Homo sapiens: one gene and its partners. The protein of the gene in region 3 purifies or fractionates together with the protein of the main gene of each other region. This does not show direct contact. Each region holds a gene or a part of one and is shown on either strand. Other genes may lie near its edges.

Region 1 (4,073 bases), on a different chromosome or scaffold from region 3:
GCATGCATACTACACCAATATCCAGGCAAGTCATTAAAACCCTAGGTCCCAGATACGGCATCCAGCCTGTGACCTGCCACAAGTGGTAACATCAGGCTAAATTTAGGCCACCAGGGCAAAAGTGCCATGAATACATCAGAATGTACATATATGGCTGGGTGCAGTGACTCACGCCTGTAATCCCAGCACTTTGGGAGGCCAAGGTTGGCGGATCATGAGCTCAAGAAATCGAGACCATCCTGGCCAATATGGTGAAACCCTGTCTCTACTAAAAATACAAAAAAATAACTGGGTATGGTGGCGCGAACCTATAGTCCCAGCTACTCGGGAGGCTGAGGCAGGAGAATCGCTTGAATCTGGGAGGCAGATGTTTCAGTGAGCTGATAGGGCTCTGCACTCCAGCCTGGCGACAGAGCGAGACTCTGTCTCAAAAAAACAAAACAAAACAAAAAGAATGTACATACGTGAAGCAGCTTTGCGAGTAGAACAATTTGCACTCCTGGTCAGTTGGACAACAGCTGTTTGCTAAGAATTCTGACTTTCTGTGCTCTTGCCTGCAACTTTCCCACCTCTGAGACAGCCTCCAGCTTGATACTGTATTGGCTGTTAATGCTCATTTATAATTAAGCTGAGAACACACATACACATAGATAAAGCATAGGGGAAAGTCCAGTGTGTTAGCATACAAAGCCATTCCGAGGACCCAGAACAGTCCTTGTTTAGGAAGGGTGGTCCTGACATCAGAAATGATAGGATTTTCCTGGCTGACAAAAAGGAACAGACCCATACCAATCTGGGGATTAGAGGCCCAAGGGAGAAAGAACCCTTCCATCTGACTTTCCTGATTATTAATCCATTTCTCATGGATTAGCAAGACAATAAACTGTAGGAAAGCCAGTGTAGGCATTAAGACCCAAAGCTGTTAATAGAACAAGGGCAGAGAGTAGAATGGATTGTTACCTATGCTGACATTCCTGGGAGAGACTGGGTGAGCCCACTGCTGCTATGAAGATGTTCACAAGCCTTCCACGAAATAGGGCTCTGAGCCCCAGCCTCCCCAAGGGGACTGTAGTTCATTATTGTCATCATTATGTCATGCATCATCATGCATTTCCCTGTCTACAACATGCACTAAGAAAGCTCACAGATGCACAAGGCTATTATCTATAAGAATACAAAACATTGCTATAAACCAATAACAATACAGGCAGCATTCAGCTTTCCTCACAGCATTTAATAATAGTAAGAATAAGAGGTAACTTTACTGAGTCATCTGTTGGATTTTAATCTTCACTACAGCCCTATGAGTTAGGGTCATTCTCATCTCATCTTTTTACAGATAAGAAAACCGAAGTGCAAAAAGTCAAATGAATTACCCAAGCCATGCAGCTAATAATTGGTACAGGCAGGCTCTGACACCAGCGCCATGGCCACAGGAATTATGTTCATACCACCTCCCACCATGGCTTTCCCACAGCAAGTGCTCACCTACTCTTATGAGGAGCCAATATATTCAGAGATTGAAAAATCTGAATATTGCTTATGTTCTGATCAGAGGTCTAGCTGCTTCAATCTATGCTCAGAATTTCACTCATCAAAAATAATTAGGACCAGGGACAGTATTATCCCACTGTCCAACTAGGGAAACCCCATTCCTAGCAAATGTGGTTTGGGGCAGAAGCGGGCAACATCAGATGCACAGTCCCTCACTCACCAGGATGACTTTCTCTATCTCCTTGGGTGCACACCAGTGAAACATCCCAGTAGAGTCGTACTTCTTCACATTGGAGTCCATGTTGTCAATCTGATCATTGCCAGGAATTAACAAGGGGTCATGCCTGGGAAGAAAAGGACAGGAAAACCTAAGTGGAAAATGTGATAAATTATAAATGGAAAGTGCCCCCTGAATTACATCTCAGAGGATGTGAAAGATGCAGAGGAAGTGGTTGTCACTGAAGGCCATTCTTCTGCTTACAGAATCCATCCTTTGAGAGACAACTGCCCCAAACCACCACCCCACTTCTGGAAGTGCAGGTGACCTTTGTCAGGGAGCATTTCTGCCTTTCCCCCGCTCCTCTTTTCCTAAATGGTCTTCCTAACATTTTGTGGATTCAGCCTCCCTTTTTAAGGCTACCTCACTCCTCTTCCTCTCATTTTACCAGCTATTCGATCTCCCCAGCGTGCACACACACACACACACACACACATACACACACACAGACAGACACACCAAAGGGTTGCTATGAGCCTCGGCAATGAAGAGGAAGGAATAGGAATAGAGCCTCATGCTGACTGACTGGCATGAGGATGGAAAGCCAATTACTCGCTCCTTCTGACTACAACTTCTGACGTGATGCTCTTCGCAGTAAAAGCTTTAACAGGCTGCACTTTAAATATTTTAGCAATTTGCCCAATCAGATTTTGCTCTCCCTGGCTGAAGCCTTTAAAGATTCAGCAGCATGTCACTTCAGAGCAGACTGACTACCAAATGCCCACATCTGGAATACATGATTTCAATACTAAACAACACCCTCTCTCCTTGCCTTGACAACTGTATATGCACTAACCATCCAATGATGCTCCCCACCACCTTCACCTCCCAACTGCTGCATATCTTAGATGAGAGCCTCAAGCTCAGATGCATCTTAATAAACTTGTTTCAAATTCTCAGGGCAACATTCGCCCTCTATTGCCTTGTCTATTGGTGGAAAAGGAAGATGCTTCCATAAAGGCCTCCCGTCTAGTGGGTTGGCAGAGCCTCACTGACAACCTTAAGAACTGCAATGGAATCAGGCAGTTCTAACAAGCTTATAGCACAATAAATAAGCTCCTGCACCTTGAATCATAGTCAATGTCCATGCTTTTATCTCTGATAGTGATTCAGCACCTCGGGTTTGGGAAGTCATTGTTCCTTCCTGCAAAACTGGCCATATAATTAGGACATTGTCCCAGCTATACTTAACCACTCTTGAAATGGAGCTATCTTTTCTGAGTAATATTGTCAACACAAGACAGAAAATATACATCGGGTCACATTCCATAAATTGTAAAGTGATTTTACCTTTTGAAATTCTATATTTCAACATCAGAGGGTGACTTTTTTCTTTTTTCTTTTTTTTTTTTTTTAGACAGAGTCTCGCTCTGCAGAGGCTGACTTTTATTTACTTTTTACTATTTGTCCTTCTGAAATGTCTCCGATACTTCCCACTTATATGTCAAGAGTACAGAGTGGGACAGCAATCTCTTCCATGGCCCAAAAACCTAGGATTAAGCTTTTGAATAACTACCACGACCCTCCAATATGCTCCCCACTCCCACATAAGGTGAGAAAACTTTCTCACTGCCTTTATTTATGCCTGAGAATTTGCTTTTAGACTACACCAAATGACAAATACTATGTGAAGCCAACTTGCAAAGTTATCTTCAACGAACATGCTAGACTACTATAGGAATATCTGTCATATCTGATCTTAAAAGAAGAACAATCCCACTCCGAGTAGCATCTCAGTGTCTGGATTGTTGAGAGGTCTTGAGGTATGTAAACCACCAGGCCATCTTCCAAATACTGAACTTAGTCAAAGATGTTAAGATAAAAAGGCTGATAAGAACTATTTACAGATCAGGGTGAGAGCACATTTTGAGGGATGTTTTTGTCCTTGAAGAGTCTTTAACAGTTGCATAGATATCTATTAATATTATCTGGAATAGGTAGGTAGACAAAAGCCATCATGGAGAAGAGGTTTGAGAAAATGAACAAAATTAACTCTTTCCAGCCCATGAAGAACATATTTCAGTTGCAAGAGGATATTAGCAGACTTGCCCTGAAGATATAGAGCCAGGTTCAAATTCTCTTGCCCTGTTTACTGGTTGGAGAGAAAGTATTACCTCAGGATGACCTGAGACCTGCCCCTAGTGCATTTAGGATTTAAAAGATACTCAGAACTATGTTCCCATAATATCAGCAAGCAAGCAAATGAAACAGCAAGCTGACAAAAAACACTTTTAGAAAATGTGTGCCTTGGGGAAGAGGAGATACATTTTGGTTTGGTATACTTGATTCTTTCTGGGAAGGA
Region 2 (4,009 bases), on a different chromosome or scaffold from region 3:
ATGCAGCACCATGATCAGCTAATTTTTTTGTATTTTTAGTAGAAGTGGGGTTTCATCATGTTTACCAGGCTGGTCTTGAACTCCTGTCCTCAGGTGATCCACCCGCCTTGGCCTCCCAAAGTGCTAGGAAGACAGGTGTGAGCCACCATGCCTGGCCTACTTTGACAGTATTTTTCACTATAGTCTTAAAAACAATCCTGTCATTATGTTACCTTTGAAAATTACTGAAAAGACATTTCTTAGAGAATGAGTTCTAGAAAATAAATGCTCTCCTGGCTCTTCCCAGCTCTGTTTCTGACTTTGTTTATAATACAAAGCCAAGCTATTATTGCTGCTCTTATTCATGTGAACAGTCTCCAAAGAGAAAACAAACTTTAAAGTCTCCATTTACACTCTGCTGTTTTTATAAAAATACCGTAAGAACACTCAAATGATTAGAATTACCTTGCTTCTTTTCCATGATCACCAATAACTCTGTCATCACGACCAAGATTTCTAGAAGAAATTCGACCCAGTTCCATCATTATTTCCTTATTCAATCCTTCCAGCCCATGCGACTGAAAGCGGACACGATGACGAGAATAACCTGCAAGTTGCTCATCTGCACCAATTCCAGTGAGAACTACCTATGAGGTTTAAAGAAATCCGTATAAAAATGTTATCAACTACACAGTAAAGAAAATAAGATAAATGCACCTAAAATATGCTATATTCTTACAATCAAAATGCTAAAAGCTTTAAGGGTCAAAAATAGGTCTCAGGAATTCTCAGGAGAAGAAACACTGTGTCATACCTTTGCATTGCTCTGATAGGATTTCACTCCTTCCTGGGCCACTAACCAACCAATTCCTCTAGAAGCAAACCAGACTGCACAGCCAATGCTATCATCCAAAACTGTATCCAATGGCCGAATTAAGTGACATATTCGAGTTCTTCTTAATTTCTGCAGTTCTTCCATAGAAACATTAATTTCAACAAAATTCCAAATTCGGGAAGGGCTAACAGCTTGTAGTTCCTTTAGTCCCGCCCTTCCTGTGATTCGATCTGGTACACTGACATGTTTATTAGGACTGTCAGCAGCAGCAGCAGCAACATCTTTAGAGAATTCTTCTGAAGGTATTTCACATTTATTTTTCTGTTTATTCCCTTCTCTGTTAAAGGTAGTTGGCATGGTCTTTTCTTCAGCTATGAAAGCTACATTAAGAAGATCAATTGGTTCATCTAAAGGAATATGACGGTCAGCAAGGGTTGCAATAACCATGGAATCAATGCCCCCAGAAAACAGGATTGCAACATTTGCTTTCCTATCACACGTTTTCAAAACTTCATTTGCTGTCAGGTTTTCATCCCTAGGTAAACACAAGACACGTTTCTTGACTGCTACACTCAGGACATCAATGAACTGCTGAATTACTTCCTTCATGTGTACATCAGTAAGAAAGACTTGAAGTATCTCTCTTGTAGGTGGCACATTGGAAATATTACTGCAATGAGTCTCCAATGCAGCTTGTGGCAACATCATATTTAAAGGAACAACAGGTTTTTCAAGATACAGTTTGGCTTCATTTGCTACCACTGATACAAATGCTGGTAAGTCTGCTGAAATTTGACTCAGGCTATTAACATTTTCTTCAATAATATTCTCCCTAGAAATATATTTCCAAGGATACAGTTGTAAAATAATGCATCCGGAAATGACAGTAGACTTAAGATCAATTCTGAAAAGTCCAGATGCTGGAACTTCTTGCCACTGATTTGCCAATCCAGATGTTTGGGTGCCAACTGAAGAGAGGCAGAAACTCTTGCCCAAATTACTAAAATGCCAAAGCAAGCTACGGCGACCAAAAAAATCCCTACCAAACCATAAATAATGACTAGATGCTTGATAATATATAAATGACCAGGGACCTTGTACTTCTGAGAAGAGTGACAAAATCTCAGATTCATTCTTACAGGAGGAAAGATAATTAAACAAAATTTGAGTGTCATTCTCTTCAGCTTCAACCTTTATTCCACTAAAAATTTCTCCATTCCATAGAAACACATTGCCTCTTTCATCTTCCACAGGCTGGGTAGTCAAAACACCCCTCAAGTGTAGGACGTGAGCAGAAAATAAACACTGGTAGTTAACATCAGACTTTAACAATTGTTTACTACTATTGGGTCCCCGCTGTTTAAGATTATATAGTAAGTCCTCTTTTAAATCTTGACTGAAATGCTCAGCAGAAAAGTTTACAGAACAACAAATGCCACACATTGTTATGTGAAATCAGGTTGACTATTTCTTGATTTTGGTCTTGTCTAAGTTTTCTATTTCTTGGTATTCTTTTTTCAGTTCATCCAATATATCTGTTGCAGGGAAGGAGAATAAATATTAAATAACATAAAAATTCTTGGACTTTTACCTAGCAATTCAGAGGGCAACACAAGCTGTTTACCAAAATCAAACCATATAAACACACACACTGTGCCAGTACCAATGATAATTAACAACAGGCTACTAATAAAGAATGTTTATCTTTTAGAAAAATAGCTTCTGTTTTGCCGAGTGCTGATTTTGGCCCAAGCACTTGGCTAAGCACTTTTAACATAGCATCTTATTTAGATCCCACAATACCTTGGAGGCTTAAAGTATTTCACCCAAAGTCACAAAGGTAGAAAGTGGTAATGGTTTGTCATACTTAGACCTGTTTAAAATTCTAAAGCACATGTTAATAACTATTGCTTTCTAAAACATTTATAATATATATATATATATATATATATATATATATATATATATATATATATACACATATATATATAACTGTTGACTCATCTTCGGAAGCCTAATTTGAAGAAAATCAAACTGCTGCATTAATCTTTAGATATATATTTTAACACTCAGATGAGTATAATTTAGGCACCCCCCAAAAACCCCAAAAAAGAAAAAACTTACTCTTGCTCTCAGACAGCATTTCTGTTCGGTCTGCAAGAAAGAATATATTGCTGTTCTGTTGTTGCCTATATACTTTCTGGAAAACATAATTTAGGCTAATATCAAATTTTGATCTAAAAAGTAGATATTAAAATCCTTAAACCCTATTATCACTAATTCTTGAAAATCTATTCAGTACAATACTTTAGCAAATACAGACAAGCAAAAAGACAAATAAAAGTCACCCACTGCCCAACTACCAGAAATTGCTACTACTGAAATGAAACTATTTTCTCTCCATTTTAACAAAAAAGGTTCTTACTGTACCTGCAGATTTATGCTTTTATCAATGAGCAATATATTGAGAATACTTTTTCTTATCAGTAAGTGTTCTTTTACAAGAACACCAAAATGCCAAAGCAAGCTATGGTGACCAAATTATACCTACTGCTATATAGATATAATATATTACAGTTTATTTGCTCAGCTTCAAATACTAGACATTTAAGGTGTTACCATCTCTTTGCTATTGTAAATCAAGGTTGTGATGATTATCTTTGTAACTAAATCTTTGTGCACTACCATGATTCTCTCCTAAGTATCAACTACTATAAATGGAACTGCTGGGTCAAAGTGTTATAGTTTTGAATTGTTGAGACTTTTTGCCAATTTGCCCTCTAGAGAAAGTCTGTATTAATTCTGCCTCAACTTCTTTTTTTTTTTTTTGAGAAGGAGTCCTGCTCTGTAGCCTAGGCTGGAGTGCAGTGGTGTGCTCAGCTCACTGCAACCTCTGCCTCCCAGGTTCAAGCGATTCTTGTGCCTCGGCCTCCTGAGTAGCTGGGATTACAGGCACACGCCTGGCTAATTTTTGTATGTGCCTCAACTTCTAATATTCCATAAGTGACAATATCAGAAATATCTAACCAGCCAGTTATTACATAATCTTTACAAAGCTTTTAAGAGCTCAAACTCATTTCTTCCTGAATGTTAAAATGCAATTTGACACTATAACCATACACAAAGCAGTAGCTTACTTGTTTGTAACATATTAATGGAAATGGCATTAAATAACCATGTTACACATTTAGGAAA
Region 3 (4,073 bases):
TTAATTTGTAAGTACAGAATTTATATTATGGGATCGAATTTTTTTCTCTGGGAACTTAATATTGTAGGTGAGGATGGTAGTGTCACTGTATAAGTGTAGGCACCTTTCATTGCATCATTTAGGCTTAGTGCGTTAATTACTTCTGGGAGCTACACTTGACAACATGAATGGAACAGAAAGTGAACTTGGGGGCCAGTGAGGCCTTGTAAAGAACATCACTAACATCCTGTTCCAATCCACTCAGAAGCTTTTGAGGGCAAGCACTACTGTCTGCTTCACTGGCCTAGGAAGACAGAGCATAAGCTACAGTGGAAGGCAGAGGGAGAGGCCTCACTCAACAGGCAGCAGAATTTGTGTGCGCACGACTCTTCTCCCCACCGCCACACACATGAAATGCTTCCTGCCCCCTGCCCTTTACTCTCACTAGGTCCTTTTCAAGGATGGAAGAGCCTGCATCTGACTGGACAGAGGCGGAGATGTTCACTGGGCCACATTTTATCACAGGGCAGTGGGCCGAGATGGTCCTTGTGCTCGTGGTTCCAGCTCTTCGGCCTGCTCTTTGGTCCTGCCCATCACAGATCTGAAGGGCAGGGGTGCAGAAGGAACCACAGGTAGGGCCCTGGTCTGATCTGCAGGTTCCATCACGACTGATCAGAGACGGCAGGAACAGGCACCTAGCTCCTGAGAACACAGTGGCTCATTTCCTAAACAGCTTTTGTTACTCAGGTGTGTGCTTCCTTGAGTGCAAAGCCAAGCACCTTAACCGAACCTCCCACCTCATCAGTATTGTTATTAATGATGATGAAGACACTGGGCGCAGTGGCTCACGCCTGTAATCCCAGCACTTTGGGAGGCTGAGTCAGGCAGATAACCTGAGGTCAGGAGTTTGAGACAAGCCTGGCCAACATGGTGAAACCCCGTGCCTACAAAAATTAGCCAGGCATGATGGTGGGTGTCTTTAATCCCAGTTACTAGGGAGGCTGTGGCAGGAGAATTGCCAGAACCTGGGAGGCAGAGGTTGCAATGAGCCCATATTGTGCCACTGCACTCCAGCCTGGGTGACAGAGACTCCGTCTCAAAAAAAAAAAAAAAAAAGATGATGAAGACCTACAAAGTATGTCTGTTGATTAGGTACATGATACAAGTCTAGGAAGAATAGCTAATGAGTTAAATGACTGATCAAAATTGAAAAAAATGCCGGGCAAGGTGGTTCAAACCTGTAATCCTAGCACTTTGGGTCAACCAGGTGGGTGGATCAATTGAGCCCAGGAGTTCAAGACCAGCCTGGGCAACATGGTGAAACCCTGTCTCTACAAAAAAATACAAAAACTAGCTGGGCATGGTGGCACGTGCCTTTAGTCCTAGCTACTTGGAGGGCTATGTGGGAGGATCACTTGAACCTGGGAGGTTGAGGCTGCAGTGAGCCAAGATCGTGCCACTGCACTCCAGCCTGGGTGACAAAGTGAGACCCTCTCTCAAACAAACAAACAAACAAACAAAACCAAAAAAAAAAAAAAAATCCTGATGTAATGAAACATCAGGGTGAGAAAATATGTGTAAAGCCTTGTACCAAAGTTAACACAAGTACAGATGGGGAACAACTAGTGACTTGAGACAACTAATGTAAAACATACTTTGTATTTTAAATGTTTGACTATAAATTCAATGAGTCATGAGTGGGTGCCATCCTTAATTCCTCCTCACTTCACCCTTTCTGGGACAGCACCCTCTCACCACCCGAGTCCAGGCCACCAGCATTACTGCCACAGCTTTCGCATTTCTAATGAGTCCTTCTCACTGCTGCCAGAGGGATTTTTTAAAAAACACAAATGGGATGTTGTCAAGGGCTCTTCAATTGCTTTAGGAAGACCAAACTCTTCACTGTGGCTTAGAAGGAATTTTCTCACCAGGCCTTGCTAGCTTCTCTCCAGGCCCATTCTCTAGATTCTCATCCCTGCTAAGTGACACCCCAGACATAGTGAACCGCTCATTTGCTGCAATGTGCAACCTCAACAGAAATAATTTTTAAAAGAATAAGCATTGTCAGAACACAGACTGGGTCCCCCCATAATGTGGGGGGTGAGGGAGATATCCCTGAGATTGAATGTGCTTAGTAGAGGCTGTATGATTCTGACTCAGGAACAATATTAGGAGGTTTCCTATACTGAGAGGAAGTTGACCTAGGGGACTGCTAGTGTCCCTTTTTAGTATGAGTTTCCGGACAGCTCTGCTTTTTAATAGACCTGAGGGCTTTTTTCTTTAAAAGATTTCCTTATTACTGAATATTAGACTGTAAGTTTCTTGTTTGTATAATTTCTCAAATTCTACTGCTTTATTTTATGTAGTCAGCAATGAGGCAATCCCTTCTTAGGGACACTCATATTGGGTCCACCTCAGAACCTTGACCTATCTGCCCTGCCTGGGGCACTGGGAAGGAGAGGGTGCCCCCCCCGCCTGGGGCACTGTGCAAAGGCTAGGCTAGGGGGACTGTATTCAGGAGAAAGTGCAAGGGTGTGAGCTGTCTGGGAATAACATGGAGGCTCAGATCACATTGCTTTTCTAGTCTTGGGAGAAGCTAATGACTGCTTAGACACCAACGGGCTGGGCAATCCTGGAAATGCATATGTATTTATATACCTTTAAGTATGTACTTATACTATGCAAACGTACTCTTTGGACCGTATAAGTCAAAGACAAGGTCCAAACACCTTCTTGCCTTCCCAACGTCCCCATTTACACACACATCTTTTCATGCTGTCTCTGTCTCTCACCACCCAGGACCTTTTGAACTCACCTGGCCTCTCTCCTCCAGTTCTGTTAGCATCACGATAGAGCAGGATTTCCACTCCCAGATCATTCGCCAGAAGTCCTCAATTGTGTGGAGAAGAGGGCCCTGGCTGGCGATATAGGAGTCCTTCTGCCGGTAGCCCTGCACAGGCCAGGTTAATTGCAAGGGTGAGATGGTTTAATCACAGAGGGACTAGTGGAGAAGACAGACCACTAGAAGGGAATGGGGACTGCTCGGAGGCAAACTCAGCCCATGCAGAGCTCCCCTGTGGCCAAGGACGAAACCCTATCTGACAAGCTGGTTGCTTTCTGTAAGAGACAGGGAAGTGGAACAGGGATTAGAGCTAGGATGAAGAGGGCAGGAATGGGAAAGATCAGGGGGCAGCCAGGTTCCTCTTGGCTGTGGTCTGCTCTGTGAACTTTTTCTTCCAGGTATTATACTACTGCATGCCATCTGTTTTCCCCCACCTTCTGCTCTATGGAGCTGGACAGACCTAATGCACAGGGTGAGTGGGTGGGTGAGTATCAATTCACTATTTGTTGACTGATTCAAACATGATCCTCCCCAGCAGGTATGGGAGGGAGGCACTGCAAGTGCTGGCTGAATCTCCACGGGGTGTTGGGGGCTCAGGGGTCACACCCACCACTTACATCAATAAAGGATGCGTTCACATAGTCTGTATTCTCTTCGCCCCGCTTAACTGGAATGATCACTCTGTTGAATTCATCTGTAAGAAGAATAGCGGCTTATGGCTAGCCAATATCATTTGTCCTCTCCCTCTCCTTGCATTGCTCCCACCTCAGGCCCTGGGCAGACAGAATCCCAGCTGGGCAAGGACATGTCTGTTCCTAGCTCATTAGGGAGAAAGCCTTTGGCTTTTACGTTATTTCCAGAAGCCACTAAGGTGCAACAAAAGGCAACGCCATGTTGTTAAGTGGGTGCAACAAGAGGCAATGCCATGATTCTTGTCTATACGCCAATCATTAACTAGTACCTGAGAAATGGAAGGGGTGGAGGGAATTGAGGGATGGGGCAATAAGGCTTTGGAGTGGCGGGAGGGCTCTTACATGGAATGATCTGTAAAACACGGTTCTTCTTCATGTTGGCTGGAAGGTTTCCAGTCCGCATCTTGTCATTCTGGATTTTGATTGATGTTAACTTCTGAATTGGGAAGGGGAGGGGAAACATTACTGATCCCAGTAACTGAACTTGACAAGATTATGCCTGTCCCTTGGCCTGCACCTCCAGGCCACTCTGGCTCCATACTGCTCTTCTCACCAGGGCC
Region 4 (4,073 bases), on a different chromosome or scaffold from region 3:
TGCAGCCTGGGTGACAGAGCAACTCTGTCTAAAAAAGAAAAAAAATTAGAAGAGATTCTGGGGTGGAACCTTAAAAACCTCCTGATTTAAAGAAGAAGTTCAGGAGAAGAGGATGCTGCCATGAAGACTGGGAAAGAGGAAGCAGATGGCTAGATGAAGAGAGGAAGGGCAGTGACCCCAGGGAGGCTGCAGGAAGATAAGGGCAGTGACAGTGGGCCATCCAGTGGGGTAAAGAACTGAAACACGTGTGTATGATTTCATGATGAGATCATTTCAGGCTTCCTGAGAGCACTAGTAAAGGAGCATAAGCCGAATTTGAGTGATTAGAATCCTTTTCTCAGCACTGATATTCATTAGTGTGTAATGGGGTCTTTCCATTACCTCCTTTGCTTCCTTGCCTTTTGGCTAAAGTCAGGTTAAATATATATCACTTCTGATTATGTGCCCTCCTCAACAAAGACATTTCTGTTTGTCTGCATGTCACGCTATGTGATTGACACCACACGACCATATGAATTATGTAGTGTAGGAAAGGACAATATGTGTACTTACACAGGTAATCTTTCTAGCAAGAGTTTTATTTAAAAATACCATGAAGAATCAAGTTTACTAGGAAATATTGGATTTAAACAAGGCTCAATATTCAAAACTTTCTAAATAATTCCCAGATCTTGTACTGTAACATGACCATGATATAAAAACACAAACTATACTAACCAGGGTAGTTTTAAGTAGTGATGCTAAGTAGTACATGCTAAAAGAGTTTGGCATGTACTCTGAAGATTTAATTTGATGTATTTCTCCTGAAAATCTGAAAATTTTGAATCTGAAAATTCTCTTTAGCTAGTAATGCTGATATTCACACATGTGGTTACAACTTCAGCAGAAGGACATCTCTAGTGTTGACTCTTCCTTTCCTTATCTTGTCTCCTGCTTCGTGAAAGATCAGAAATAATATGGGACAGTTGTCTAAAACTCTGTAGATGAAATGTTCAAGTATAGCCTGACCTAAATCCAGAGAACTGAAAGACAAAAAAGGACTTTTAAGGAAAAAAATATGATTAGACAGCAACTAAATAAATAAAAGAATAAATGACTTCTGTTTTATACCTACAGGCTGTTGTCTGCCATTCTCAGAGTTTCAGAAGTTGAATCTCGAGCAATAAGAGCAGATCTCACTCATCTACTAAGTCCCCAGATGGGCAAAGATATTGTTTGGTTTTTAAAACGCTGGGCAAAGACTTATCTCCTGGTGGATGAAAAACTGTATGATCAGGTCAGAATGTAAAACTTAAAACTTCATTTGGATTTATGATGATAGCAGTTATAGAAGCAGGAACATTTTTCTTGGTGGTTTTTCATCAAAATAGAACTGTTTAAGAGCAGTTTAACATTTTCTGTGTGGAAGAGAATTATGTGACTGGAATGCTGTTTTAATGTGTTTTTGAGCACATCCCTTGATATCGTTTATTTTAACTGCTGTTGAAGATACAGATTATTATTTGGGAATAGATTATGCTTTTTTGTATTTGGTTTAATACTATGTTAATTTTTTAATACTATGGGAATAATAGAAGTTGACGGGAAAATCACACTGGAAAATGTGAGTGGATTGAGGATGTCTTTTTTTTTGACCAGTGGAAATGAGTACATGTGTAAAGTTGATGTGAAGTAAGCACTACTTCAGATTAGATACTAATTTCAGTTCGATTTTTCTCTGTTTTTTTTTTCTTGAGTTGATCTTTCTTGCTTACCTTAAAAAATTTGTTTCCTCTCTTAAGATAAGTCTGCCATTCAGTACAGCGTTCGGAGCAGATACAGAGGGTTCTCAGTGGATAATTGGCTACCTCTTACAAAAAGTCATCAGTAACCTCTCAGTCTGGAGTAGTGAGCAGGACCTTGCAAATGACACTGTGCAGCTCCTTGTCACTTTGGTGGAAAGAAGAGAAAGGTTAGCCCATTGTTGGAGGCTGACTGTGTGTGTATGTGTGTGGGTGAGAAACTCTTTTTCACTTCTTAGTGTAGTCCTTTGAACTGGCAAATGGTTACACGGTCCTAATTCCAGATAGAGCCTACATTTTTGGAGTAATGGGTTTTAAAAACTATGTCACAGTACTATTACAAATGCAAATGGAGCTTTCCCATCTTATAATTGAGCATTACATTGACTCCTTCAGGATTTGGCATCAAAGCCCTATGAGTAACACATTAGTAATTTATCGTGTTGCAAACACTTTTATGTGGAATATGCTCATTTGAATTTTTAGACATCCCCATTTTAAAGATTAAATACTGATATTTAAAATTTAATGTTGGAAAGTAAAATTTTTAGTGCTTTCTACAACAATTCTAGAAATGTTTTCGTTGTTCTTACTGTATAGGAGTATCATTGTTATTATTACCATTGTCATTGTCTGGTTTATTGAATTCTTATAATTTACTATGTACTCTTCTAAGCATGTCATAGGTAGTATCTCATTTAATCATTATATCAGTCTCAGCCCCAGGAGACTGTTATTATTCCTATTTTGCAGATTATAGAGAAGTGATGATTGATAGAGGTTAAATAAATTTTACATCACCAGACAACTAGTGGGATTTGAATGTAAGCCTGTGACTTCAAAGTCTATACTAAGTTTACTGTACTTTGCTTTAACAGTAATTAAATCTAGTTATTTTTTATTTTTGTTTTCTTTGTGTGTATATGTGTATGTGTGTATGTATATACATAGTAATACATCTTATGTTTTGTTATTTCTACCTGTAGGGCAAACTTAGTAATTCAATGTGAGAACTGGTGGAATTTAGCTAAGCAGTTTGCAAGCCGAAGCCCACCTCTTAATTTCTTGTCAAGTCCTGTGCAGAGGACATTGATGAAGGCTCTAGTCTTAGGAGGTTTTGCACATATGGACACAGAAACCAAACAGCAGTATTGGACAGAGGTAACAGTGCTGTCTATTTTGATTGCACCCTTTTGTGTAACTCTGTAGTTCCTTTATCTATGCGTTGCCGTAAGAGTCTCTGGAGACATAAATGTATCAGTCATAGCTTTTCTTTCTTTCTTTCTTTCTTTTTTTTTTTTTTCTGAGATAGGGTCTTACTCTGTTGCCCAGGCTGGAGTACAGTGGTGCAGTCTCAGCTCATTGCAGCCTCTACCTCCCAGGTTCAAGCGATTCTCCTGCCTCAGCCTCCCAAGTGGCTGGGACTACAGACTCATGCCACCATACCCAGCTAATTTTTGTTTTTTTTAGTAGAGACGGGCTTTTGCCATGTTGGCCAGGCTGGTCTCGAACTCCTGGCCTCAAGCAATCTGCCCGCCTTGGCCTCCCAAAGTGCTGGGATTACAGATGTGACCAGCCACTGTGCCCGGCCCAGTCATAGCTTTTCTGATATTTTTTCTCCTAATGAATGGGTTGAAGCTTCTTATTTTACAAATGTTGTCTTATAATTTTTCTGTACCTGCCTGTGTGTGATGACATTGAATATTATCAAGTGTTCTGCATTTTAGGCACATTTTTCACAACTCAGTCGAGAGCATGGACTGGCTTATTAAATTTTCATTAGGGATCAGGGAAATATTCTCCTGTCTTGAATAAGATGCAGATTAACCATGATATTCATTTCCTAGGGCTGCTCTAACAAAATACCACAACAGAAATTTGTTTTCTCCTACTTCTGGAGGCTAGAAGTCCAAGCTATAAGGTGTCCATGGGATTTGTTCTTTCTGAAGGCTATGAGGGAAAATCTGTAGCCTCTGGTAGCTTGCTGGCAGTCTTTGGCATTCCTTGATTTGTAAACGCATCACCCTGATCCCTGCCTTCATCTTCACATGCTCCCCCTGTGTGTGTCTGCATCCACACTTCCCCTTTCTATATCAGTTATATTGAACTAGGGGCCCACCCTATTCCGGTATGACCTCATCTGAACTAATTACATCTATGACAACCCTATTTTCTTTTTTTTTGAGACGGAGTCTTGCTCTGTCACTCAGGCTGGAGTGCAGTGGTGTGATCTTGGCTCACTGCAACCTCCACCTCCTGGGTCAAGCGACTCTCCTGTCTCAGCCTCCTAAG
Region 5 (4,073 bases), on a different chromosome or scaffold from region 3:
TGCTAGTAGGGAGCTGGAGGGAGGGTGGAAATCCCTCTTGCTTCCCCATGAGGAAAAGCATGCACTGAAAATACCAAAAGAGACTCCCCTAGCTAGACTCAGATGAGAACGTCAGACACTTGAGTGCAGACCCTGGGAGCGTGCCTGACACAGCCACAGAGCAGGCTGGCTGTCTGGGCGAGGTGATGCCGTCCCAGTCTTCCACAGCAAGGGGTATTTAGCCCCCAGACAGTGCACTCTCTCCAATGGACAGCTGCATCTGCCCTGAAAGCGAATGCTCCCTCCCAGGGCAGTGTTTCTCCCAGTATGGTCAGAGTCAGAATCACAGTGCAGGTCTGGGGCCCTCCTGCGGAGACTCATATTCAGGCAGCTCCCCGCTAAGAAGGCCCTCGGTGACTCTGGCATAGGCAGGCTCTTTACACTTGGGGAAACAGCACTATGAGGTCAGCGGAACTGACGTTTATCAAGCATCTCCAAGTGTCATGCACTTTGTGTATGTCATCTCATTTAACCTCACAACAAACCTGTGACCCAGGCAACATTAGCTCCACTTTGCAGATGAAGAAACTGAGGCTCCAAGAAATTAATTAACTTCATCAATACTAACAGGCAGAACTGAGCTTCAGACCCGAGACTGTGGGGCTTCGAAGACAGGACTCGCTGCAGTGGTCAGGTTAGAGGAAGTCACCTGGCAGCAACCCCGCCCCCACGTTACCTGCATGATGGCACTGAACTGGGGCTCATTCTCCATCTGCTCCTCAGCGATCCCCCTCTGGACACTGGCCAGCACGGTGGACTTGAAGAAGTACCTCCAGTTGTGATGGAGCGTCCGGAAAAGGAGCTCAAACAGCTCGGCCTTCACATCAGGGGAGGGACGCTGCAAAGACACACAGACGCTCAGACCTGCAGCTTGCGGAGCTGCTCCGGCCTGGGCCCAGGGCAGCAAAGATGCCTAGGAGACGCCTCGTGACAGCAAGCCGAGTGTCAACACTCCATCCACATGCCTGTCACTACCTGCGCAAAAGACATCCAGCCCCTGGAGTCCTGTCACTGCCTGTGCAAAAGACATCTAGCCCCTGGAGTTGGCGGTTCACACCGCGAGTTCTTCAGGAGAGACATGGCCCACATTTGAGAGAGAATGCACGGGTCAGTGCCAAGGGCCCCTTTTTCTGATGAGCACTCAGCTTTTACACTAGAAAAAAGCTACCAAGTGGATGAACAATTAGGAGTATGGATTTCCTGTTCTATTCGACCTGTCAGATCTTCTTGCTTGTTCCTTTTCCCAGGATAAAAAATGCTGTCCCACTAACCTGTTGGTCTTACACAACCACGGAGGCTAAAGACAGACCCAACGCCTTAAAGCGATTCTGCTCCCCAGAAGGGGAGGGTTTAAAGAACACTTGGGAGCCAGGCTCTCTGGGCCAGTCTCCTCTTTCCCAGTAGCCAGGATTCTGAGAGGAGTTAGAGGAGAAGGGTCAGGCTCAGCAGTGTTTTCTCATTGACTCCAACTCCCCCAATCCCTTATTCCAAATGTCTCTGCAGAATTCAAAATTAGAAGGCCCACATATATTCAGTTCAGCCTTGATTAAAATTAAATAGACACCAGGGGCCACAAGCATCCACAGAAGAAGCCTCATAGGCCCAGTGCATTTCGTAATGCACAGCAACCAGACCTGTCCCAGTCTCAGTTCAGACAGTTAAAGATTAACTCTTATTTATACGACTATTACCAAAAAAACTGAAATTAAATCTATACTTATTCCGGGTCTTATTATGCTGAGTGCCTGCCTATTTTCTAAGAAGGACAAAGGGCTTTCCTGTAACACTGAAAGGTTTGTTTGAATGGTTTCAAGAACTTGCCTTGTATCCTCGAGACCATGAATGTTTCTAATAGGAAAGTACATATGTTAGAATGTTTGCTATAGAAAACCAGAGTCTCTTAAAGGTATAAAATTTGCCGCAGGAGACTGATCTTAGCAACTGACCCTGTGGAATAACTGCCATGCTTACACTAGACTAGCTCCAATGAACTCAATCAATATAAAAACACTGTACCACACCACTAAAGGCCTTCTTCCTTGGGAGAAACTACTTTACAAGCATATTAAACTAACAAATGAACTTTAAAACACAATACATTTTCTGTGAAATCTCATTCCCTTCCCAATCTGGAGATGGGGGGTGCTGCACAGGGGACCGTCTGAGCCCCTACCTCGGCAATGATGGGATACACTTGCTCCATGCACAGGGCGATGATGCTGGGGAGGAAGGGCTTGAACACCTGGCCTGGCTCCTGGACCACCACCTGCAGGATCTTCAGAAACTTCTCCACCACCCGGCAGCCTGTGCTGCCCTCGTGGAGGATGCTCTCGGCTAACTGCTCTCTACAGAGGAGAAAGCCACACAGTGAGCAACCACATGTTTCTCTGGGGGCCAGCATGAAAACCCATGCTGTGGCAAGTGCAGAACAGGAGCAAAAAGCCACACTTTGTCGCCAGACCCACCACTTCTCCCTTGAATCTGAAAACTATAGATGGTGGGTCTGTGCTTACCTGGTAAACATGTTGAGGAAAGTCTGTATGATTTGCTCAGTGAAAGGCACACCCATCTGTACTCTAAGGCCTCGAAACAGAGTGAGGAAGAAGCTCAGCATCTCATCAGTCACATCTGAGGAAAGGGGCAGAGATATCGTCAGAGGCTTGCACACAGTGAGAACCAGAACCCTGGGCTTCATCAACCTACTCCTGAAATCTGCACTATCAGCTTTCTCTACAGCTTCCTGCTGGAAACATTTCCCCAACACCATCAGGGCCAATGATGGAAAGTGGAAAACGATTAGGGACATGCTGAGAAAATAGTTCTGGTATAGGGAACCTCCACCTGGTGGCTCACTACAGGAAATGAAGGTCATCTCGAACCCTCCCTCATTGCCCGACATCCAGTGATGGTCAGAGTTTCACTGGAGAGGGATCACTTTGTGCCCACACTGATGAATGCCAACTGGGTCAACACCTGAGTGCTTAAGCCATTTCCCCCTATGACTAATAATCCCTGCAGCTGGGTCAGGGGTTAAGTGGTTGAAAGTGGATAATGAAGGTGTATTTAGGTTGCATGGCCCTGGTCCATTAAATGGATTAATTGCAGAAAATACTGGTTACATATAGGGCAGTTTCACTTCCAGATCTCAACAATCATCTTGTGTAGTGTGTTTCAGCCCTAACTGCACGCAATCTGCTTGCAAGAGGCAATGAATATTTGCTGACTGAGAAGTGCCTGATATTTCTCTTGTAAAACTGACAAGACTACTATAATGCTGTCATGAGAGCTAGGCAAGTACATCCACAGAGCTAGAGAGGCCCTCTATCACTGACAGTGACAGACAAGGGTGAGGGGAACGATCTCGGCAAATGCACCTTGCCACAAAATAAGGAGAACTAAGCCAAAAAAGCTCTCTTGCCTTCTCTTGTAGGTGCCAAGGCCCATATGGAGAGCTCTGCTCACTTTTCCAAAGGGCCTTGGCCCTAGACTCCACAAATAAACATCACTGCCCTTTCCCCTCAGTACCGGGTTTCGTTGCACGGAACAAGTCAAGGCCTGTACTGCACCGACTCAGTGTGTTCTACAGATCTAAGTGGGTATTCTGGCCCTTGTTAGCACCACCCACCAGTGGGGCCTCTGGGCCAGCTCCTACCTGACTGATGGATAAAAGCTGGAAAGAGGGCCAGGGAGACCTGAACAGATTCCTGCAGCGACTGGTAGCAAATCTGTCGAGACTTGGTGGACTCCCCCGAGATATTCTCCACAATATCTTCTAAGACGCTGAGTGTCTGGTGGATAATCAGTTTGGCTGCAAATCAAGATGAGTTGCAGGTTATAAGCTGTCTGGGGAGAAAGCATGGTAAGAGGAGACACAAGGGAGAGGGAGGAAACTTGCAAAGGTACCAAGAAGATGATCACACGAGTCTCACTAAAGGAACAGTCTCTTGATTACAATATAAATTCTCCTCTCTTTATGTTTTAGTTTTTGTTTTTACTATTATTACTGCCAGGACTCCAGAAGCCTGGAATGTGTG
Region 6 (4,073 bases), on a different chromosome or scaffold from region 3:
ATATCAATGGATTCATACAATATTTGGTCTTTTAAAATCTGGCTTAATCCACTTAAAATAAACATGTATTTGAGGTTCACCAATTTTTAAGGCATGTATCAGTATTTCGTTCTTTTGTATTGCTCAATTATATTCCACTGTATAACACATTTTACCTATTTTCCAGTTGACGGAAATTTGGGTTGTTTCCACTTTTTGGCTTTTATGAACAATGTTATGATTATTCACATAAAATCTTTGTGTAGTCTATGTTTTCATTTCTCTTGGGTAGATTATTTAGAGTGGAACTGCTGGGTCATATGTTAAATTAATGCTTAGCTTTTAAAGAAGCTGCCAAATTGTTTTCCAAAGTGGCTGTACCATTTTACATTCCCAACCAAAAAAGTATGAGGGTTCCCATTTCTCCACATCCCCTCCACTTGTCATCATCTTTTGGATTATAGCCATTCCTCTAGTGAGTGTGAAATGGGATTTCACTGTGGCTCCAAATGCAATTAATGCCTAATAACTAATTATGTTGAACATGTTTCATGTGCTTTTCGTCCATTAATATCTCTTCTTTGGTGAAATATCTATTTAGATCTATTTTTAACTTGGGTTGTTTATCTTATCATTGAGCTGTGTGAGTTGTTTGTATATTATGGATTCAAGTCCTTTACTAAATACAGAATTTGCGTATCTTTTCCCCAGTCTGTGGCTTTTCATTTTCTTACATTTTCATTTTTGGATCACAAAAGTCTTCAATTTTGATAATGCCTAACTTATCAATTTTTCCTTTTATAGACTGTTTCTGGTATCATACCTAAGAATTCTTGGCTTAATTCAAGGTCTTAAAAGATTTTCTTCCTATATTTTCTTCCAATTTTTTTTTTTTTTTTTTTTTTTGAGACGGAGTTTTGCTCTTGTTGCTGAAGCTGGCGTGCAATGGCGCGATCTTGGCTCACCGCAATCTCCGCCTCCGGGCTTCAAGCGATTCTCCTACCTCAGCCTCCCAAGTAGCTGGGATTACAGGCATGCACCACCATGCCTGGCTAATCTTTCGTATTTTTAGTAGAAACGGGGGTTTCACCATGTTAGCCAGGCTAGTCTTAAACTCCTGACCTCAGGGGATCTGCCCGCCTCAGCCTCCCAAAGTTCTCAGATTACAGGCATGAGCCACCACGCCCCGCCCACAATTTTTTTTTTTTTGAGACCGTGTCTCACTCTGTCGCCTAGGCCAGAGTGCAGTGGCGCAATCTCAGCTCACCGCAAGCTCCGCCTCCCGGGGTCACGCCATTTCCCTGCCTCAGCCTCCCGAGTAGCTGGGACTACAGGCGCCTGGCACCGTGCCCGGCTAATTTTTTGTATTTTTAGTAGACACGGGGTTTCACTGTGTTAGCCAGGATGGTCTAGATCTCCTGACCTCGTGATTCGCCTGCCTTGGCCTCCCAAAGTGTTGGGATTACAGGCGTGAGCCACCGCCAGCCCACAATTTTTATAGTGTTAGCTCTTACATTTAGACATCTTATCCTTTTTGTGTTAATGCTTGTATATAAGTTGAGTGTCTACATTCACCTACAGTCATCCCTCAGTATCCACAGGGGGTTGGTATTTGCACATAACCTATGCACATCCTCCTGTACAAGTTAAATCATCTCTAGGTTACTTATAATACCTAATACAATGTAAATGCTATGTAAATAGTTCTTATACTGTATTATTTGTATTTATGTAATATTTTCAATCTGTGGTTGGTTGAATCCATGGAAGCAGAACTTGCAGATACAGAAGTCTGACTGTATTTGCATGCAGATATCCAATTATCTCAGCACCATTTTTTGACAAAAACTATCATTTCCCCATTGAATTGCCTTGGCATCTTTATTGAAATTTAAATAACCATAAACATAAGAGTTTATTTCTGGAGTCTAAATTTTATTCTCTCATCTATTCATCTCTGTTTATGCTAGCAGCACAGTCTTGATAGCTGTAGCTTTGTAGTAAATTTTGAAATTGGGAAGTGTGAGTCCTCCAACTTTTTCTTTTTCCAAATTGTTTTGGCTATGCTGGGTCCTTCTATTTTCTATATTAATTTTAGGATCAGCTTGTCAAATTCTACAAAATCCTGCTAGAATTTTGATAGGTGCAATTTTGATATACATTTAGATGCCAATGTAGGGAGGGTTGCAGCTTAACAATACCGAGTCTTCAATTCCATGAACATGGCATGTCTCTCCATTTATTTAAATCTCTTTTAAAATCCCTCAGTAATGTTCTGTAACTCTTTACAATGTACTTTGATTTGGATCCTTTTCAATTGACTGAGGTTTTTTAAATAGCCAAACATAGTTTATCTTGATGACTGTACTGTATACACTTGAAAATAGTGTATTCTGTAGTTGTTGAGTGTATATTCTATAAATGTCAATTATATAAAAGTAGCTGATTGTGTTGCTGAGATTTGTCTTGACCAATTTTTGTTACCTCTTCTATCAACTGAGCGTTTTTAAATTTCCTACTCAGATTTAGAACTCCCCTTAATTCTACCAATTGTGTCATTGTTTTGAGGCTCTGTGATTTAGTGAATATACATGGATAATTATTGTGTCTTCCTGATGAACTGTTTCTTATAATCAATATTTTTCAGAGACAAAGTCTTGCTATGCTGCCCTGGTTGGCCTAGAACTCCTGGACTCAAGCAATCCAGACCTCCCACCTCAACCTCCTGAGTAGCTGGAACTACAGGAACACACCATAACATCCAACTCCTCATTATTATGAGATCAGTCTGTTGCTCAGGTTGGAGTGCAGTGGCACAATCATAGCTCACTACAGCCTTGAACTTCTGGGTTCAAGCAACACACCTGCCTTAGCCTCCTGAGTAGCTAGGACTACATAGGTATGTGCCACCATGGCCAGCTAGTTAAAATTAAAAAAAAAAAAAAATTGTACAGACAGGGTCTTGCTATGTTGCCCACGCTGGTTTCAAACTCCTGGCTTCAAGCAATCCTCCTGGCTTGGCCTTCCAGAGAGCTGGGATTACAAGCATGAGCCACCATGCCTAGCCAAAGTCTGCCTTTTAATTGAGGTGTTTAGATTGTTATCATTTAATTATTCATATGGTTAGATCTAGTCTATTTCTCTGTTCCCCCTTTCTTGGCCTCTTTAAGATTTCCTGTTCTCTGTAAGACTATTTGAATATTTTTATTGGCTTTTTGGCTACATCTCACTGTATTTTTTAACTCAGTGCTCCAGGGATTACAATATACATATCTAATCATTTAAAGTCTACTTGGAGTTAGTTTTATATCATTTCATATTTAATAATATAACTATAATGAAGGTCTGTGGGGTAAGTTCCTTTACTACTGATGTTCACTACTGTCAAACATCTATGCATATTTAAAATTCCATGAGATAATGTTACTATTTTTGTTTTGGACAATTATAGGTTTTTCTTTTCTTTTTTTTTCAGTTTAGGAGGCAAAAAAGTAATCTTTTCTAATAACCAGCTATTTACCATTTATTTTGCATTTATTTTATTCCTGAAGATGCAGGTTTCTCTTTGGTATCATTTTTCTTCAGTTTAAATAACTTCCTTCAGCATATCTCATAGAGCAATCCCATTGCTCATGAATTATTTTATCTGAAAATGTCTTTATTTCACCTTCACCCATGAAGAATATTTTCACTGGATATAAAATTCTGAGTTGACAGGTCTTTTCTTCCAATGCGTTAAAGGCACCATTCCACTAAATTCTTCCAAGGATTGTGATGAAAAGTGCATGGGTACATTCAAATCTTTATGGCTCCGTAGGTAATGAATAATTTTTTAACAGCTTTCAGTGTATTTTAATTTTTTTTTAGCAGCCGTTTTCTTGTTAGCAGGTGAATATCTCTGATTTTTAGTTTACTTTTGATGTGTGCAAGTGTGGTTTTGAGTTTAATTCTGTCTGTAATTTGCTGAGTCTCTTGTATCTATAAATCTGTATCTTTTACCAATTTTGGAGGTTTCAGCCATTATTTTTTCAAATCTTCAAATATCTTTTCTAACAGAATCTCTCTTCAGTTCTTCTGGAACTCCAGTTATCCAT
Region 7 (4,073 bases), on a different chromosome or scaffold from region 3:
CCCAGCTCTTGGCTTCCCATCCCAGGGGGCCAGACAGAAGCGCCTTCCCCACCCACACACCTGAACAGGAGCTCCACAGTCATCTGGTAGGTGGCCTCTGGGGTCCCAGCAAGGGGCTGCAGGTGGCTGCGGGGGTCCCACTTGTGAAGGAAGTTCTGGCAAGCAGGAGGAGTGGCCAGTGAGTGTGGGCCCCGAATGAAAGCAGCCTTGCCCCATCCCCGGCCCCTCCAGGGTCAGCCACAGGGCACCCGCTGAGGGGGCTGAGCCATTCACCCTGGACACCCAGGCACAGGCCCCACGAGGCTGCTGGCTCCTCCTGGAGCCAATGTCCAAGTCCCTCCTTCAGCCCGACCTGGGGGCCTGAGAATCCCCACAGCCCAGATGTCAGGAGCACCCCCCAAGGCCCCAGCAGCCCAGATGTCAGGAGCACCCCCCAAGGCCCCAGCAGCCCAGATGTCAGGAGCACTCCCCAAGGCCCCAGCAGCCAGGGCGGGCAGCACTGAGCCCCACGGGAGGGGCTCAGCCTCACTCAGGACCCGCCTAACCCAGCACGACTCTCCCATCAAAGTTCCAGGCAGGCCCGGCCGGTGGCCTCAGGCCCATCGAGAGTGAATTAGAAACAAACGACCATGGAGAACAGCCTGGGTGGGGATCTCTGATACCTCCAGAATCAGGGCCAGAAACAGGTTGACCCAGATGACAGACGACACCAGCCACCACAATACAAAATAGATCTTGGACCACCTGCGGAGGACAGAGACCCACCCTGTGAACCACGATGAGCAAAGCAAGAGCACTCGATACAAACACCACTGCTGCGTGGCCAGGACAGCTCTCGGGCAGCCGGCCCACACACACCATGATGCAGAGCGCGTTACTATTTCCATCTCAGAAACAACCCAACTGAGGCCTAGAAACGTGCAACAAGCTGCCGAGGTAGCTAAGCCAGCAGGAGGCGGTGCTGGGATTAAAACCCAGGACCATCAGCTGGGGCCAGTCTGAGCTCTTCAAGCTCAGAGCTGAACTATCTCGTTCACTCAGCCTTCCCGGGGCTCCCCCACCCCCATGGAATTCCTCAGAAGCCCCAAACACACCAACGACCTCCAGGAGGTGTAAACCCAGAGTCACTGGCCACCATCCTGAGAGTCACGATGTGGCTATGCAGGGGGCAGGGACAAGGCAAGCCAGGATGCCACGCTGGCCGACTTCCCTGTCAAGGCCCGAGTCCCCGTCCCAGCCACGCTCCGGGCGTCCAGTGCAGATGCAGCGTGCCCGGAGGTGAGGGAACCCCCAGGCTGCACGGAGAATCACTGCCGTCAGGGAGACGAGGACTCACGGGCCTGAGTAGCGCCGATATGCATCCAGAAACACCTGCCAGTTGTTCACCACCATCAAGTTCCACAGAGTGACCAGGGCAGCCTGCGGGGGCAGAGACCAGCGGTCCAGGAGGGCCCAGGAGGTAGGGAGGGGAGGAGCCCGGGGAGCAGGGTGCTGGGACAGGGCGCAGGGCTCACCGCAAAGTCATCGAAGTTGTTGGCCCAGTACTCCAGCTGCTCGAAGCTCCCACAGGGCGCCGAGCCATTGGCAGGGGCCAGGCTGGGGAACACAACACACCTGGGTCAGGGGCGGGGGCTCCAGGTTCTGAGGCCTGATACCTTACACCCCTTTCCTCTGCTGGCGTGCTCAGCCTGGCCTGAAGGTACAAATTGGGATACAGAGGCTCAGAGGGCAGGGAAAGTGCTGCTCTGAGCAGGCCACGAGAAATGTGTTTAGCAGACTCCAGGCAAGGGCTCCTAGGAGAGGTGCGGAGCGGAGGTGGAAATTGGGGGTCGGGAAAAGGGGGTGGAGGGAGGAGACGAAGGAACTGGGAGAACACCCTCCCATCCTGAGATGCTGAGCCCACTGAGGCCACCGCCAAGGCTTCCCGCCCACCCCAGCACCCCTGAGACACTCCCTGTGGCACCTCGGACCCCACCTCACCTGCTGTTTCCAGGAAGAGCCACAATGACGCCTCTAAACAAGTTGATCCCAATGATGGCAAATACGTAGTAGACCACCTGGCGGGCCAGGAGCCGGGGACTGATCAGCCCCACCCATGGGTGCACCCACCACCACCCTCCCCAGACAGAACCGCAAAGCCAGAGGATGACTGTGAGGCCAGGACCCTCTGCCCAGGGCTGGGATTCCAGCCTGGCTGCTACTTCAAAACACACGCAGCTGGCCTCCCCCAGGGCTGGCGGGTCCACAGACACAGTGGGGCTCAGGCAGGCGTGGTCATGGAGCTCCTAAGGGAATTAGGGCCCTGCCCCCAGGTACCCTGGCAGCCACAGTTAGGGGACAGGCTGCCCGCCAACCCCAGGCCTGTCCCTAACATGCGTCAGCAGAGTGGAAGGGGTACACGCCTGGGCTAACCTGGTCCCCTTTCTGGGCCTCAGTTTCCTCTGCTGTGCAAGTTAGGGGGCTGGGCAGACAGCACCTGAGGCAAGATTCTCTTCCCAGCGTCTATTTCCAGAGGCGCGAGGCACAGCTGGGGTCCAGCCCAGAGCACCCTGCGGCCCCAGAGACACCTTCTCACCCCAGTGGTCCCTACGTCAAGGTGGTCAGAATAAAATGGCAAAACTGCCTGAAGTGTGGCCGGGCTTCCTGCAAAGGGCGCCTCCTGTCACTCTGCACGGCGCGGATCTGGGGCCTGCCTGGTCACAGGCCCCTCTCCTGCCCAAGCCCGGCCACCAGGCAGAGCAGATGGGCTCCTCAGCTGGAAGGCTGGCCCCCAGGGAGGGGCCGGGGCGTCCCACAGTTCTCGCTCAGCAAATGTGGCTGTGAGTCCCTGAAATTCCTCTAAGAAAGGAGCCTCGACCAAGTCCTCATCCCAGGGCTTGTGCAGGCTTTGGGGTCCCTGGAGCAAAGCCCTGCGCCTCTTAAATTTCTGTCATTACTTTCTCAACGAGATCCACAACCCAGAAAACACGAGAGACTCAAAAATTACCAAACAGTCTCTGCCATGGGAGGGAAGGATGCTCAGGCAGGGCCACCAGCCACACCACCCGAGCTCCCTGCTGTACAAAGAAGGGGATGCCTCTGGCTTCTTACCCCGACCCTGTACTTCCCTGGCCTCAGGAACCTGCTGCCGTCCGAACCCAAGAACCTTCCTACCGACAGAGCAGTGAGCCGGCCCGGCACTGCCTTCCGCCAGCCTCCCAGCCTCCCACTCCAGTGCATAACCCGCCACCAGCAGCAGCCTGGGACTCACCACCAGGATCCCGCCAAACGCACGCATGTTCTGCACCAGGCCCAGGACGGTACTGGCCACCACGGCCATCAGCTGAGGACAGGAAGAGAGCACAGCCCTTACTCCTCCTGGCCCCACTGAGGGGACACCATCCCGGCCCACCACGCTGACCCTGACAGAAAGGCAAGATGGGGCAGGCCAATGACCACCAACCCACACACACACACCTGGACCCACAGCCACCCCCACACGCCTCTACACACCCACACAGCCTGTCAGGCCCCCACGTCCACCCATACACACCCTCGCACCCCAACACCTACATCTACCCACACGCATTCGCACACGCTTGCATCGCCACCCGCACGCACTCACTCACCCACTCCCGCATCCCAACACCTCCACCCCAGCCTCATTCAAGCACGGACTTCAAATTCCTGTGGGAGGCCCTTCTCTGCCTCCCAACCCACTGCAGGTGGGTCAGCTACTCTGTGGCCTGGAGACGCCAAAGAAATGCAGAGCTAGAGGTGGCAGGAGCACCTGCAGGAACTGAGTCTGAGAAGGGGCCTCTGAGAACCAGCAGGGAGGCCCCGGCTCCAAAGAGCCGCTCCTCCTCATCACAGCCTAGCCGGGAGAAAGGCCTTCACATCAGCCCCATCAACCCACCTGAGGAATCCAAACTAGACAACACAGCTGAACGCCACAGTGGAGACCAGTCAGCATGTACGTGTGCACACGTTGCGTGTCATCGTGAGCATGTATATACTCACGTGAGAGGTCCTGGGAAACTGCGACTTCAAGCAAAACGGCATGATTGCAGGGTCTGCTGTGCGCCATTTCCCTT

What was found.
Region 1: the proteins of PTPRA (region 3) and KCNMA1 purify together in Homo sapiens (affinity purification with mass spectrometry; one large-scale study listed by BioGRID and IntAct). This does not show direct contact.
Region 2: the proteins of PTPRA (region 3) and ASNSD1 purify together in Homo sapiens (affinity purification with mass spectrometry; 2 studies listed by BioGRID and IntAct, with this or other methods). This does not show direct contact.
Region 4: the proteins of PTPRA (region 3) and XPO4 purify together in Homo sapiens (affinity purification with mass spectrometry, with the first as the bait; one large-scale study listed by BioGRID). This does not show direct contact.
Region 5: the proteins of PTPRA (region 3) and XPO6 purify together in Homo sapiens (affinity purification with mass spectrometry, with the first as the bait; one large-scale study listed by BioGRID). This does not show direct contact.
Region 6: the proteins of PTPRA (region 3) and DENND4A purify together in Homo sapiens (affinity purification with mass spectrometry; 2 studies listed by BioGRID and IntAct, with this or other methods). This does not show direct contact.
Region 7: the proteins of PTPRA (region 3) and TPCN2 purify together in Homo sapiens (affinity purification with mass spectrometry; 2 studies listed by BioGRID and IntAct, with this or other methods). This does not show direct contact.

Annotation. Positions count from the first base shown.
Region 1 is NC_000010.11:76,952,087-76,956,159, forward strand, and holds part of KCNMA1 (Calcium-activated potassium channel subunit alpha-1), read right to left. Parts: intron 1,839-4,073; coding exon 1,715-1,838; intron 74-1,714; coding exon of another isoform or gene 1-73. UniProt on the Homo sapiens protein: Potassium channel activated by both membrane depolarization or increase in cytosolic Ca(2+) that mediates export of K(+). It is also activated by the concentration of cytosolic Mg(2+).
Region 2 is NC_000002.12:189,664,381-189,668,389, reverse strand, and holds part of ASNSD1 (asparagine synthetase domain-containing protein 1), read right to left. Parts: intron 3,015-4,009; coding exon of another isoform or gene 2,939-3,014; intron 2,350-2,938; coding exon of another isoform or gene 2,279-2,349; 5' UTR 2,258-2,278; coding exon 794-2,257; intron 627-793; coding exon 445-626; intron 1-444. Other genes in the region: ASDURF protein, read right to left, coding at 2,279-2,349, 2,939-3,014.
Region 3 is NC_000020.11:3,026,563-3,030,635, reverse strand, and holds part of PTPRA (receptor-type tyrosine-protein phosphatase alpha isoform 1 precursor), read right to left. Parts: intron 3,950-4,073; coding exon 3,856-3,949; intron 3,516-3,855; coding exon 3,439-3,515; intron 2,930-3,438; coding exon 2,795-2,929; intron 1-2,794. UniProt on the Homo sapiens protein: Tyrosine protein phosphatase which is involved in integrin-mediated focal adhesion formation.
Region 4 is NC_000013.11:20,798,034-20,802,106, reverse strand, and holds part of XPO4 (exportin-4), read left to right. Parts: intron 1-1,116; coding exon 1,117-1,276; intron 1,277-1,781; coding exon 1,782-1,951; intron 1,952-2,767; coding exon 2,768-2,942; intron 2,943-4,073. UniProt on the Homo sapiens protein: Mediates the nuclear export of proteins (cargos), such as EIF5A, SMAD3 and isoform M2 of PKM (PKM2). In the nucleus binds cooperatively to its cargo and to the GTPase Ran in its active GTP-bound form.
Region 5 is NC_000016.10:28,103,831-28,107,903, forward strand, and holds part of XPO6 (exportin-6), read right to left. Parts: intron 3,848-4,073; coding exon 3,692-3,847; intron 2,668-3,691; coding exon 2,553-2,667; intron 2,385-2,552; coding exon 2,213-2,384; intron 878-2,212; coding exon 716-877; intron 1-715. UniProt on the Homo sapiens protein: Mediates the nuclear export of actin and profilin-actin complexes in somatic cells.
Region 6 is NC_000015.10:65,683,957-65,688,029, forward strand, and holds part of DENND4A (C-myc promoter-binding protein), read right to left. Parts: intron 1-4,073. UniProt on the Homo sapiens protein: Probable guanine nucleotide exchange factor (GEF) which may activate RAB10. Promotes the exchange of GDP to GTP, converting inactive GDP-bound Rab proteins into their active GTP-bound form.
Region 7 is NC_000011.10:69,083,194-69,087,266, reverse strand, and holds part of TPCN2 (two pore channel protein 2), read right to left. Parts: exon of another isoform or gene 4,009-4,073; intron 3,323-4,008; coding exon 3,251-3,322; intron 2,058-3,250; coding exon 1,981-2,057; intron 1,597-1,980; coding exon 1,515-1,596; intron 1,420-1,514; coding exon 1,337-1,419; intron 745-1,336; coding exon 663-744; intron 156-662; coding exon 61-155; intron 1-60. UniProt on the Homo sapiens protein: Intracellular channel initially characterized as a non-selective Ca(2+)-permeable channel activated by NAADP (nicotinic acid adenine dinucleotide phosphate), it is also a highly-selective Na(+) channel activated directly by PI(3,5)P2 (phosphatidylinositol 3,5-bisphosphate).